2 separate regions of the Homo sapiens genome follow, and region 2 is linked to region 1. Evidence: fine-mapped expression QTL. A gene starts in region 1. The other region holds a variant in brackets. All regions are shown on one strand. Distances are from middle to middle. Region 1 holds the start of PLXNA1 (plexin A1). Region 2 overlaps LINC02016 (long intergenic non-protein coding RNA 2016).

The links.
Region 2: its variant is fine-mapped to the expression of PLXNA1 in lymphoblastoid cells (GEUVADIS, PIP 0.95).

What each region holds. Positions count from the first base shown.
Region 1 is chr3:126,980,354-126,985,721 of GRCh38, reverse strand. It overlaps PLXNA1 (plexin A1), which reads right to left and starts at 2,607. Exons shown (of 32, transcript NM_032242.4): 1 at 2,435-2,607. RefSeq lists silencers at 1,517-1,596, 2,612-2,841, 2,942-3,161 and enhancers at 3,212-3,541, 3,802-3,851.
Region 2 is chr3:127,319,882-127,325,249 of GRCh38, reverse strand. LINC02016 (long intergenic non-protein coding RNA 2016) reads left to right here. Exons shown (of 5, transcript NR_110147.1): 4 at 519-715; 5 at 2,523-2,943. Among named protein-coding and RNA genes, the nearest start is that of PRR20G, 35 kb to the right of the region's middle. The variant T/A (reference allele first, on the strand shown) is at 2,845.

The DNA of each region.
Region 1 (5,368 bases):
TCTCATAGGCTTGGGTCTGCCTAGGAAAAAATGCATTCATTCCAAAGCTGGGCCCAGGTGCCAGGGTGCCAGGGGCCCATGCCGGGGCTAGGAGGGGAGCATGGGCAGATGCTGCACTCTACCGAGGAGCAGAGCTGGCCACTGTGGCCGGGGAAAGGCCTCAAGAGAGGACCAGGTAGCCTGGGAGCTGGTGCAGGAGGGTGGGCATTCGTGGTGGGGGTGGGGGGCAGAACAGGAGGAGCAAAGGCCTGGGGTGGGAAACACTGGCTGTGCAGAGGGCAGTAGGAACGGCTGTGGCTCTCCGGCATGGCCAGAGCTGTTCTAGGCTGAGGCAGAGCCAGAGCCAGGGCAGGGGAGGCTAGACTGGCCTTGGGATGCCGATGGGGCTAGCCAGGGAGAGAGAGGCGGAGAGAGACCCCGCGGTCTGCGTGCAGGAGCCCCAGCCCAGGGGCTCCTCTCCTGGACAGGAGGGGATCGCCGCCTGGTGGAACGCCAAGCCAACAGTGTCCCCTTCCCTTTCCTGGCCTGAGTGACACCAAAGCTCCTTCTCACCCTGAGAAACAAAGGCCCCCAAAGCCCTCCCCACAAGGAAGAGTCCAATCCCCCCAAGTCCTCCTGCGCCAGATCCTGCTATGGCTCAGGCAGGTTGGGGTGTGGGGCTGCCATCCTGCCCAGTGGCTCACAACAGCAGCCGGGGGGGAAGACAGCTGCTCCTGGCACTCCGCCTCCCCCACAACGGGGGTCATGGGAGGTGGTCCCAGTGGTTCTGCTCCCGACCAGTCCTAGGGGATCCGGCTCTGAAGGCCTTGGAGTCCTGCTCCTGAGAAAAAGTGCCTACCTTTGCAGGCCTTCCCCTGGGGCACCCGCTCCTCCCGGCCAGCTGCTCTAAGCTGCTCTGTGCACGGGGGCTTTCCTGGGGGCTCAAAACAGGCAGGCAACGACCTTGGGGGGCCAGGAGTCCAGCAAAGGGCTGTCTGCTTTGTCCACAGGCACCTCATGTGTCCCCCACCCCCAGAGCACACACTGAGGCCACAAACCCAGGCCTCCGCCCATGCTGTCCTCTGCCCAAAACGCCCTTCCTGGGCCCCACTGGCACCCCCCAGGAATGGAAGCCTGGCCCTGCAGCGAATCACTGGTTCACATGCCTGCCTCTGGCAGGGGGCTGGGTGCTCCTCAAGGGCCGGGCAGCATCTTGGTGCCCCTGGTGCAGCACCTGGCCTCTGCCGCACACCCCAAGCCGCAGGAAATCGAGGGGACCTGAGGCAAGCTCCTCAAGGGCCCGGGGAGCAGAAACTGCGCCCCATCCCTGCACCGACCCCCAAACCGGCTACGTGTGAAAGGAGATGGGGCAGCACGGAGCAGCCTGAGCCACAGGAGCCGCGCTGAGGGGACAGAGGCTCGACCACGTCCCCTCCCCGGCACACACACCCCTTTCTTTCAAGGGGCGTGGCCCCAGAACCCCACACAGGAGCCTGGGGCAGATCGCCGCCCGGGGCCGCCCCTCGGAGCCCCTCCCCTCCTTTCCAGGGCTGCACCTGGGACCTCACGCCGACCGAGGGGCCTCCCTGGAGTCCCCACTCCCCCTTCCCCTGGCAGCCCGGGATCGGCCCGCTGCCTCCAGCTTCGCCGCACATCAGGCCCGGGACTATCCAGGAAGCAATCGGAAGCCTCCGGGAGAAGCGGCTGACCCTGGAGAGGCCCCGAGAGGGGGAGGCCAAGGAGGCCCGAGCGGGGCGGCCTCCTGGGCGGCACCCAGAGCCCACCTCCCCGCACTCCGGGCCAGTGGGAGCGGTGGCAGCTGTGGTCGGGAAGCCGCTCCAACTTCCACCCCGCGCCCCAGGGCCGGCCGGGGGCTTAGCCTGCACGACCTCCTCCGGCCCCCGCGGCCCTGCTGGGAGGCTCCGATCCCTATCCGGGCCTGGCCACCCCGTCCTCGCCCGCGGCCAGAGGTCTGAGCCGAGGTCCAGCGGCCGGGACGGGCCTGGACACCGCAGGGGCCTCCCCGCGGGGCCGCCGCAAACTTTCTCCCCAGCCTCCGTGGAGGGGCAGCGCCCGCCCCCCGCCACCCCGGAGCTGCCGCGGGGCTCGGCGGGCCCGGCCGGGGGGCGGGGGAGGCCGCGGCGCTGGATCCCGGGCCGCGGTCCCAGCCCCGCCGCACGGGGGTGCGGTCTCTCCGCGTCGGCGCCGCGACCGCGCCCGGACACACGCGGACGCCTGGGCCGGAGCCGCAGGGACACGCGGGCCGCGGACACGCGCGCCGCAGTCCCCACGCGCGCCGCAGTCCCCGCGCACACCCCCTGCCTGCCGCCTCACGAGAGGGCCGCCGCCGGAGGCCGCCCCGCGCCCACCCACGGGCCGCCCGGCCCCGGACCCCAGCCCGGCCCGGCCCCCGCCCACCGTCCCGCGCCGCGGGGAAAGTTGCGCCCCGACTCACCCGCCGCCCCGGGGCGCGCCCCGCCGCCGGCCATCGCCGCGCCCAGCCGCCCGCGCCGCCGCCGCCGTCCGCCCCGCCGCGGGGCCGCCGAAGCCGCGTAGGCCGCCCAGGCCGAGGCCGCCGCCGCGCCCGGGCTCCGCTGCGTGGCCGCGCAGCCGATGCCCAGCATGAATGGGGCGCCGAGCGCCGCGCGGCTGCGGACCGGCCTCGCTCTCGCCGCCCGCGGAGCCCCGCGCCGCGCGCATGCGCCGCCCAGAGCCCGGGGGCGGGGCGGGGGCGGGGCCGGCGGCGGCCTCCAGAGGGCGCTCTGCCCCGCGCCGCGCGCCTGCAGGGGCCCACCGCGCGTCTTCAAAGGGCGATACGGCTGCCCGCCTCAACTCTCTGGGCGCCGGGGCCGCGCGGGCAGTTCCGGGAGCCCCCCGCTCTCGAGCGGGCTAGCCCGCGACCCCAGGAACAGGGCCTGGCTCAGTGTGCCCAGGCTAGGAGCATGGCCTCCTTTCACGGGGGGGGAAACTGAGGCTGAAGGAGGCAATCGCAGTTCCCAGACCTTGCGGGGCCGGGTGTTCCCAGCTCTCGGCCTCGCGCGTTCCGCTCTGTCAGATGGGCGGGCACCTGCGCGGGGAGCCCGGGCGCCCCCTGCAGGCCCCAGGCTGGTGGCGCATTCCCGGCTGGGGACGCAGCCCAGGGAGGAAAGTCCCGCGGCAGAGGCGTGGCGAGACGCGAACTCCGGCTGTAGCGTGGGGCAGCGGATCTACACGGTGTGAGGTGTGGGGCTGCAGAATCCAGGGTGACGGGCCAGAGCTGTCCAGGCAATACCCCCAGCCTGCATGGCAAGGCTGAGGGGCAGACACCCAGCACTCAGTTACTGTACTCACAACCGCCACTCCCAGGCAGGAGGCATCCGGGAGGGCCTCCCGGTGGACGCAACCAGGCCAAGGAAGGGGAAGCCGGCAACAGGAGCATCGATAACAGAGCAGATGGGCCAGGAAAACCCCGTCGTGGGAGGGCTGAGTCCCGGCTGGGGACTTGGCCCCCATCTGTAGCCTGAGGGGTGCGGTTTTTGCTGTGTGAATCACGTCACCCCTACAGAAGAGGAACTCTCTACAGTTCACATGGTTAACAGGGAAAGGGAATGGACTCATACCGGGCCCAGGTGTCCCTCCGCGTCTCACCCCGCTCCTCCCTCCCCAGGAGCAGCCACAACCCTCATTTTTGTGTTCATCTTTAAGTGCTTTTCTTTGGGTGTGACCTCTTATATTTGCACCCCAGAATGGGACGCTGTTTTGGGTGGCTTGTTCTGGGCATTACAGAAACGGGGTCACTCAGCCTGTGCTGTTTGCTCTGTCTGCTCTGTGTGGTGAGGGCACAGGGCAGCTGCTCGCAGGCATCGTCTTCGCAGCCTGTTTTGTTGGGCTCCTGCTCGCCCATTCTCCTGCCGATGGACATGGGATTGTCGCCTATCTGGAGCCATGATGAGCAAAGCTGTGATGAGCATCCTGTGTGTGCCTCTCGGTGGGCACCTTTAGATCCAGGGACGGTCTGCAGGGTCACGGGGTAGGATTTGTCTAGCTTCAGGAGATACAGCAAAACCGTCTTCCCAAGTGACAGCCCCAGTTTACACTCCCAGCAGCTTAGCAGGAGTGTGGAAGGGTCTGGCTGTCCCACATCCTCACCAATATTTGGCACTCTTTAGTTTTGCAAATCTAGTGGCATGAACTGGTTTTTCAACTAGGTGGTTTTGCTTGTCTGCTTTTTTTTTTTAGAGACAGACAGGGTCTCGCTCTGTCACCCAAGCTGGGATGTTGTGGTGCAATCAGAGCTCACTGTAACCTCAAGCTCCTAGGCTCAAACCATCCTCCTGCCTCAGCCTCCTGAGTAGCTGGGACTACAGATGGGCACCACCATGCCTGGCTAATTTTTTTTTTTCAAGAGATGAGGTCTCTATGTTACCCAAGCTGGTCTCAAACTCCTGGGTTCAAGTGATGCTCCCACCACAGCCTCTCAAAGTGTTGTGATTAAAGGCATGAGACACGGCACCCAGCCTCATTGAGTCTTACTGTGTCGCCCAGGCTGGAGTGCAGTGGCTCGATCTCAGCTCACTGCAACCTCCACCTCCTGGGTTCCAGTGATCCTCCCACCTCAGCTTCCCGAGTAGCTGGCATTACAGGCGTGTGCCACCATGCCCAGCTAATTTTTGTTTTGCCATGTTGGCAAGGCCGGTCTCAAACTCCTGACCTCAAGTGATCTGCCCGCCTCGGCCTCCCAAAGTGCTGGGATTACAGGTGTGAGCCACCATGCCCAGCCTCATTGTGGTTTTAACTTACATGTCCCTGAATGAGGCAGAACATCTTCCTCAAAAGTTATATTTATTATTTTATTTCCCAAGCACTAATACAGTGCTGGCTCTGCTACCTTCTACAGATGGGTGGGCTGAGGCTGGAGACGTGCTCAAGTTCCCCAGTGGATAGGAGGCCGGGCTGGGAGGCTAATCCCAGGAGTCTGGCTTCTCCAGTCTGTGGTCTTGACCCAGCCACTGGGCTGTACTTCCCCTCCCTTCCCTGGCAAACAAGACTGGAGCGCTTTCTTTCCTCACGGACTACCGAGGCACACGTGTGGGCGCAAATCCATCCTCATGGCTGGTGAAGGCAGAGCAAGTCCTGACTGCTCTCCGAGCCTCGATTTCCTCATCTGTGAAATGGACGTGAGAGCTTGCAGAGCTGTGGTGAGGGACACAGTGAGTGTGGACACCATGGCTGACCTCGGGGAATGTTCACCAGCTCTTGTCTGCGCCACCTGTCACCAGCACCAGGGGCTGTCCCTGCTGTCTGCCTGTTCCCGCCCTTTTGCCCCAAGGCAGACACTCCTCAAGGAGCTTCCTGCTCTGTACTCACGGTGCCCAGGAGAGCCTAGGCCTCTCCTCTGTGGTAGAGCCCC
Region 2 (5,368 bases), 340 kb before region 1:
CTTCCAGACCTCAAAAACATTCTTCCATGTTGATATGGGTAGATAAAGTGTTTTTTTTTTGTTGTTGTTGTTGTGCAATATTCTACTGTGTGATTACAAAACATCTTAGTTAGCCCTTCCCCAGTTGACGGAAATGCCCTTATTTCCAGCGTCCACTTGCAACATCCCTGGATGTGCCTCCTTAGGCACCACGGGTTCTCTGGGGAATCAAAACCAGAAGTGAAGTTACTGGGCCCTGAGACACATGCATTTTCACAGGGCATGAGAACAGCCAATTTCCTTCCACCTTGACAGCTCATGAGATTATCAAACTAATTTTTGCCAGTTATGTAGGTGAATAAAACAATATCTCATCGTTGATTTAATTTGCATTTCCTTGATTACTAGTAAGGTTGTGCATCTTTTTTTATGGCAGATGCCTATCTATATCCTTTTCAGTAAACTCATATCCTTTGGCCATTTTCCTATTTGGTTGGTTATGTTTTCTTATTAATGTGATCTGTTGTTTTATATTGTAGGCACTCCCTCCAAGACAGACTTCTCTGTGGAAGCAGCATATTGGAGGCCTGCTAGGACAGTTCACAGGAATGGCTGTGGAGGGCTGCAGGCATGTCTCTAATCAGAACCTGCTTGTCTTTTTGATTGACAGCTGCACTTTCTCCACCAAGAAGTGGGTACTGTGCAAGTTATGGTCATAGTGAAGGTGGGGGACATGGTAAGTCCTTATTGTGCAGACAGTCATTTCCTGTTTTCAATCCCACCTGTAAATGGAATCTCCACTGGGGAGATACCCCGATTCTGGGGCAGTCCCAGTAAGGATCTGCTTCTGGGAGTGGGGGAATCCAGCATGAACACCCAGAAATATACTACAGCAGGGAGATCAGCACTGGTCCTTAAGCTAAGAAAAAGGGTAGCCACACACTGTCACTCAGACATGTGTGCTGAACAGAGCACAGGTGAAGTGGTGTGCAGGAAACACTAAAGACCACATCAATGCATTCTTCTAAGAGCACAGGGTGCTGTGCCCCTGGCATGGAAAGCAGCACAGGGAGTGGGGGAGCCTCCCTGATGGTGGGCAGGAGCCTCCCCAGGAGGCCGGAGAATTGGACAGAGGAGGAGCTGGCTGCAGTGCAGTCTCACTGAGGGCCTCTGCCAAACTCACCGAGCTCTGGGGCTGGAGTGGGCTTAGAACATGTCCCATATTGAGGGGAAGGGGCTGGGCCTTTCAGCCCTGCACTTTCCAGGGAAGGGGGAGCCTTGATAGAGGCAGCTCCATTCAGCAGAGGGCGATGCCTGGGGACAGCTTGGCTGTGGTCCTCAGCAGCCAGCAATCCCAACCAGATACTAAGCAGCTCTGTCGGAAGGGGACACGTCCCAGTGTCTGCACGCTCTGATAGCTCCTGTCTCCTTCAGAGCAGAGCCAGGCTCACAGTGACTGTCAAGCCCTGTCTGCTGCTGCCTCTATGACCTCCTCTTCCCCAGCTGTCCCTCTCTTTCCCTTTCATGCACTCTAAACTGGCCCAGCCCCGCTGTCCCTGGACCATGCCAAGCATTTTCTGGCCTTGGACTCTGGCTGGAATGTCCCCCACCTATCTCATAACAGCATGACTTGGTTCTTGTCTTCTTCCCCTTCTTGTTGAAATGTTCCCTTCTCTAGAGATGTACTCTAACCACCCTGCTTAATGGGGGGACCATTCCCCAGGTATCCTCTGTCCTTCTAACCCTGCTTTATGATTTTCCACAACATTTCTCACCACCAGACAGATCTCATTCATTCGTGAACTCCCTCTCCCTGGGAGAATGGAAGCCTGAGAGCAGGCATTTCTGTGCCCTGTTCACTGCTGGGTCTCCCGGGCCTGGAGCAGGACCTGTCTTGTGGTGGCCGTGTGACAGTGTTCACTGTATGAGTGAATGAACAAATGAATGAATGAACGGAAGACAGGAGGGAACTGCAGGCAGTGGACAGACTCAGATTCTTCTATGGCCATGGAATTCGCTGCATCAGAGCCACAAATACAAATGTCGCTGTGCCGTGAAGGCAAGCTTGGCTTTCTGTGTCAGAGACTTGCTAAGAACATAGCCCATGTCCTTTCTAAATTGTCCCCAGAAGTGTGGGTAGGACACAGCCATGTGATATATCTGGAGGAAAAGTTCAGACTAACAAAATTCCACTTGGAGACCAGGGTGCTGGCCAACAGCGGCACCAAACATCCCTAAAGTCATGTATAGATGGACAATGGACAATGTTTAGTGAGTGTGTCAGGGAGGAAGCAGAGCTGACCAAAACCCCAGGTCTCGCCTCCAACCATGGCTGATGAAATTGGCCTTACCAAGCGTCAGAAGAAGACTCTATCTTATTCAGGTGAACAGTAAGGAGACCCACCTTTGTAACGAGGGGACCAGCGGTGGCAGCCCTTCTCACATGGAGTGCCCAGTGATTCAGTCACACATGGGCCCAGGTGCTGCTGGGAGGTGTTTTGTAGATGTGGTTAACGTCTGCAATCTGTTGACTTTATGTACAGGAGATGATCCCGAATGAGCTGCATAGGCCTCATCGAATCAGTGGAAAGCCTTGAGAACAGAGCCAAAGTTTCTCTGAGGAAGGGGAAATTCTACCTGTAGACAGCAGCTTCAGTTCCTGCTGCAGTTTCCAGCCTGCCCTTCCTGATGTCCTTCCCTGTGGATTCCAGATTTGCCAGCCAGTCCTCATAGCCACATAAGCCAATTGCTTGTAATAAATCTCCTAGTGTTAATGATCCTTTAATAATATACATATAAATAATATATCCTAGTATTAATAAATCAATCTCCCTCTCTCCATCTCTCTCTCTCTCTCTCTCTCTC[T/A]CTCTCACACACACACACACACACACACACACACACACACACACGTCTTACTAGTTCTACTTCTCTGGTGGAACCTTGACTGATATAGATGAGTAACCAGAAAAAATTTAACGTGGAGAGGGGGCTTGACCAGATGTTTTACCAATCTGTATAGACAACTTTCCAAAATGTGGTCAGTCAGGACACAGTCATCAGTAGTCTAATCAGGTGGACTTAACTATCTAAGGCCAAAGCACAGCCAGCCAGTGTCATAGATCTGGATGGCACAATCAGTATAGCAGCTGTCCAGAACACAGCTGACCAGGCAGGATGGATTAAAGCCACAATGTAGAAGACAAGATGAAGACAGGCAATTGTCCTGGACGTGGCTGTCCAAGAAGACAGTCATGGGGGAAATGGCCAGTGTTTCCCAGGATCTGAGTGGCCAGTCCATAGTCATGAGGCTAAAACCAAAAAGGATTCACTGTCCACGACACTATGGCCAAGAACATAGTTCTCAAGGGCAAAGCCAGTGTAGACAGAGCGGATAGGACATCAATGACCAAGAACAAGTCCCAAGGATGCACAGCCAATGCCAACATGTAGATGGTTCTAAACTGTACAGGATACTCATGGCCATGCATAACCTTGAGGGAAGTGTCCTTGAGACAGCCACCATGTGTACTTGTGCTAGAGGTAGGCTGTGGTTTATTTTTCTCATTTATCCAAGAAGCTATTTTTGTTCATTAAAACCTAGTTACTTGCTGTATCTAGCCAGGATCCTGGAGTGCTCGCTTGGTTAATTTAAGCAAGCAGAGCTTTGACAAAGTAATTTTATTGTCCTCTGGGATTGGCCAGCTTATGCCAAGCCTCACTCTTTCTGTTGAAATGGAGTTAATTTTCGCTGAAATTGCTTCTTAGCAGACAAACATATTCCCCATCATTGAGGGCTTATGCTTCTGCAGCTCTATTATTCCTTAATTTACACACTCGGCAGCATAGGATCCATGCCCAAGACAGACAGAGACTCCTGCAGGTGGAGGAAGGCGGAGAAGACGGCAGCCCCTGTTCAGCTCCTCATACCTGGTTAGAATTAGCCGTTAGCAATTAGTCATCAATCATCCAATCAGTCTGTGCAGCCAGAGCCCCCAGTGTGCCCAGCTCTGTGCCAACCACAGCAAGAGGATGCAAGGAGGAGGGGTTCCCTGTCTGAAGAACCCAGTTTATTTGGGGAGGTGAGACTCAGACATGGGACTCAGAATTGACACAACACAATATTAGCTCAGACTTTGGCTCTGGTCCAAGACATGGAATAATGGAGCGACTTGCTGATGGGACATGAAAAGATGGAACGGTCTGAAAAAGAAGGAAAGAGAATGGCCCTTGGAGGGGACCTGTCATAGAGGAGCCCTGAAACTTCTGGTAAACCTTCAGGGAGGGGCTGCAAAAGTGGGCAGAATAGGATGGACTGGGTAAATGGGTCTAGGAGGAGCACAGTGGCAATCAGTGTTCTTCAGAGTAAGGAAGGACAGGAAGTGTTCAGGACAGGGCAAAGGCCAGGACTGGGGTCAAGACCATGACAATTAAGCCAGCATCTGAGTCACTATCATTGCTGGCCTTAGAGTCATGAAGGGCATTCAAGGTGAGATCAAGGCTAGAGGAAGGGCAGCTTGGCCCACAGCTGATGTCATGGCCAGCACCACGGAGAGCTCCCGTAGGTTCTGGTGCCTCCCACACCCAGTGGGCATAAATATTCAGATCCCAGTTGTAGAAGCAGAAATAAGTAAGCCCATGTTCTTTCATTCAGCCTTGGCTAGGAAATATAACTGAAGCAGAAGACATGGGCTTTGCCTAGCAGCTAATGAAGAACCTTGAAAAAAAAAAGGGAGTCTGTTGACACAGATGCTTTGAGAAGACAAGCAATAAGCTAGCCATTACATCTTGTTAGATGGATTAGGAGAACACTGGGGAATATTTGCATACCAATTACCATAAAATTTGAGTTCAATCTATACTTATTTTATGACTTGCCTTCAGAAAGTTGAGTTTCTGTGTACATCTGTTTGCTAAGAAGATTCATTTTCCTGTAATATTGAAATTTTTGTCATAATAGTTTCAAAAAGTGTTGACTTGTAACATTAACATTGAAGATTAAAAATGTTTATTAAAAAAAGCATTTGTTAAAATGTTTGTAGTAGGAAAGTGTTTATGCAAAGCTGCTTATTCACCTTGATAATGAACCCAAACCAAGCTGTATAAGTGTTGAGTTCCTTAATATTAGAAATATAGTAAGATGCACATTTCCATGTAAAATGTATCTGCAAGCACAACAAAATACTGTAACATACCAACTTTAAAACCCAAAGCATAATCTTTGTTCACAGAGGGTCAGGTGTATCTGGCTCCAGGCTCCAAGGAATCACACATCTGAACCTGCCCCATTCTGCTGTCTCTCTCTATGACTCTGCTGGGGCACTAAGCCCCCGCTTCCTTGGAGACCTTGCTCCTGTGCATCATGTGTTGTTGTTGTTGTTGTAGTTGTTGT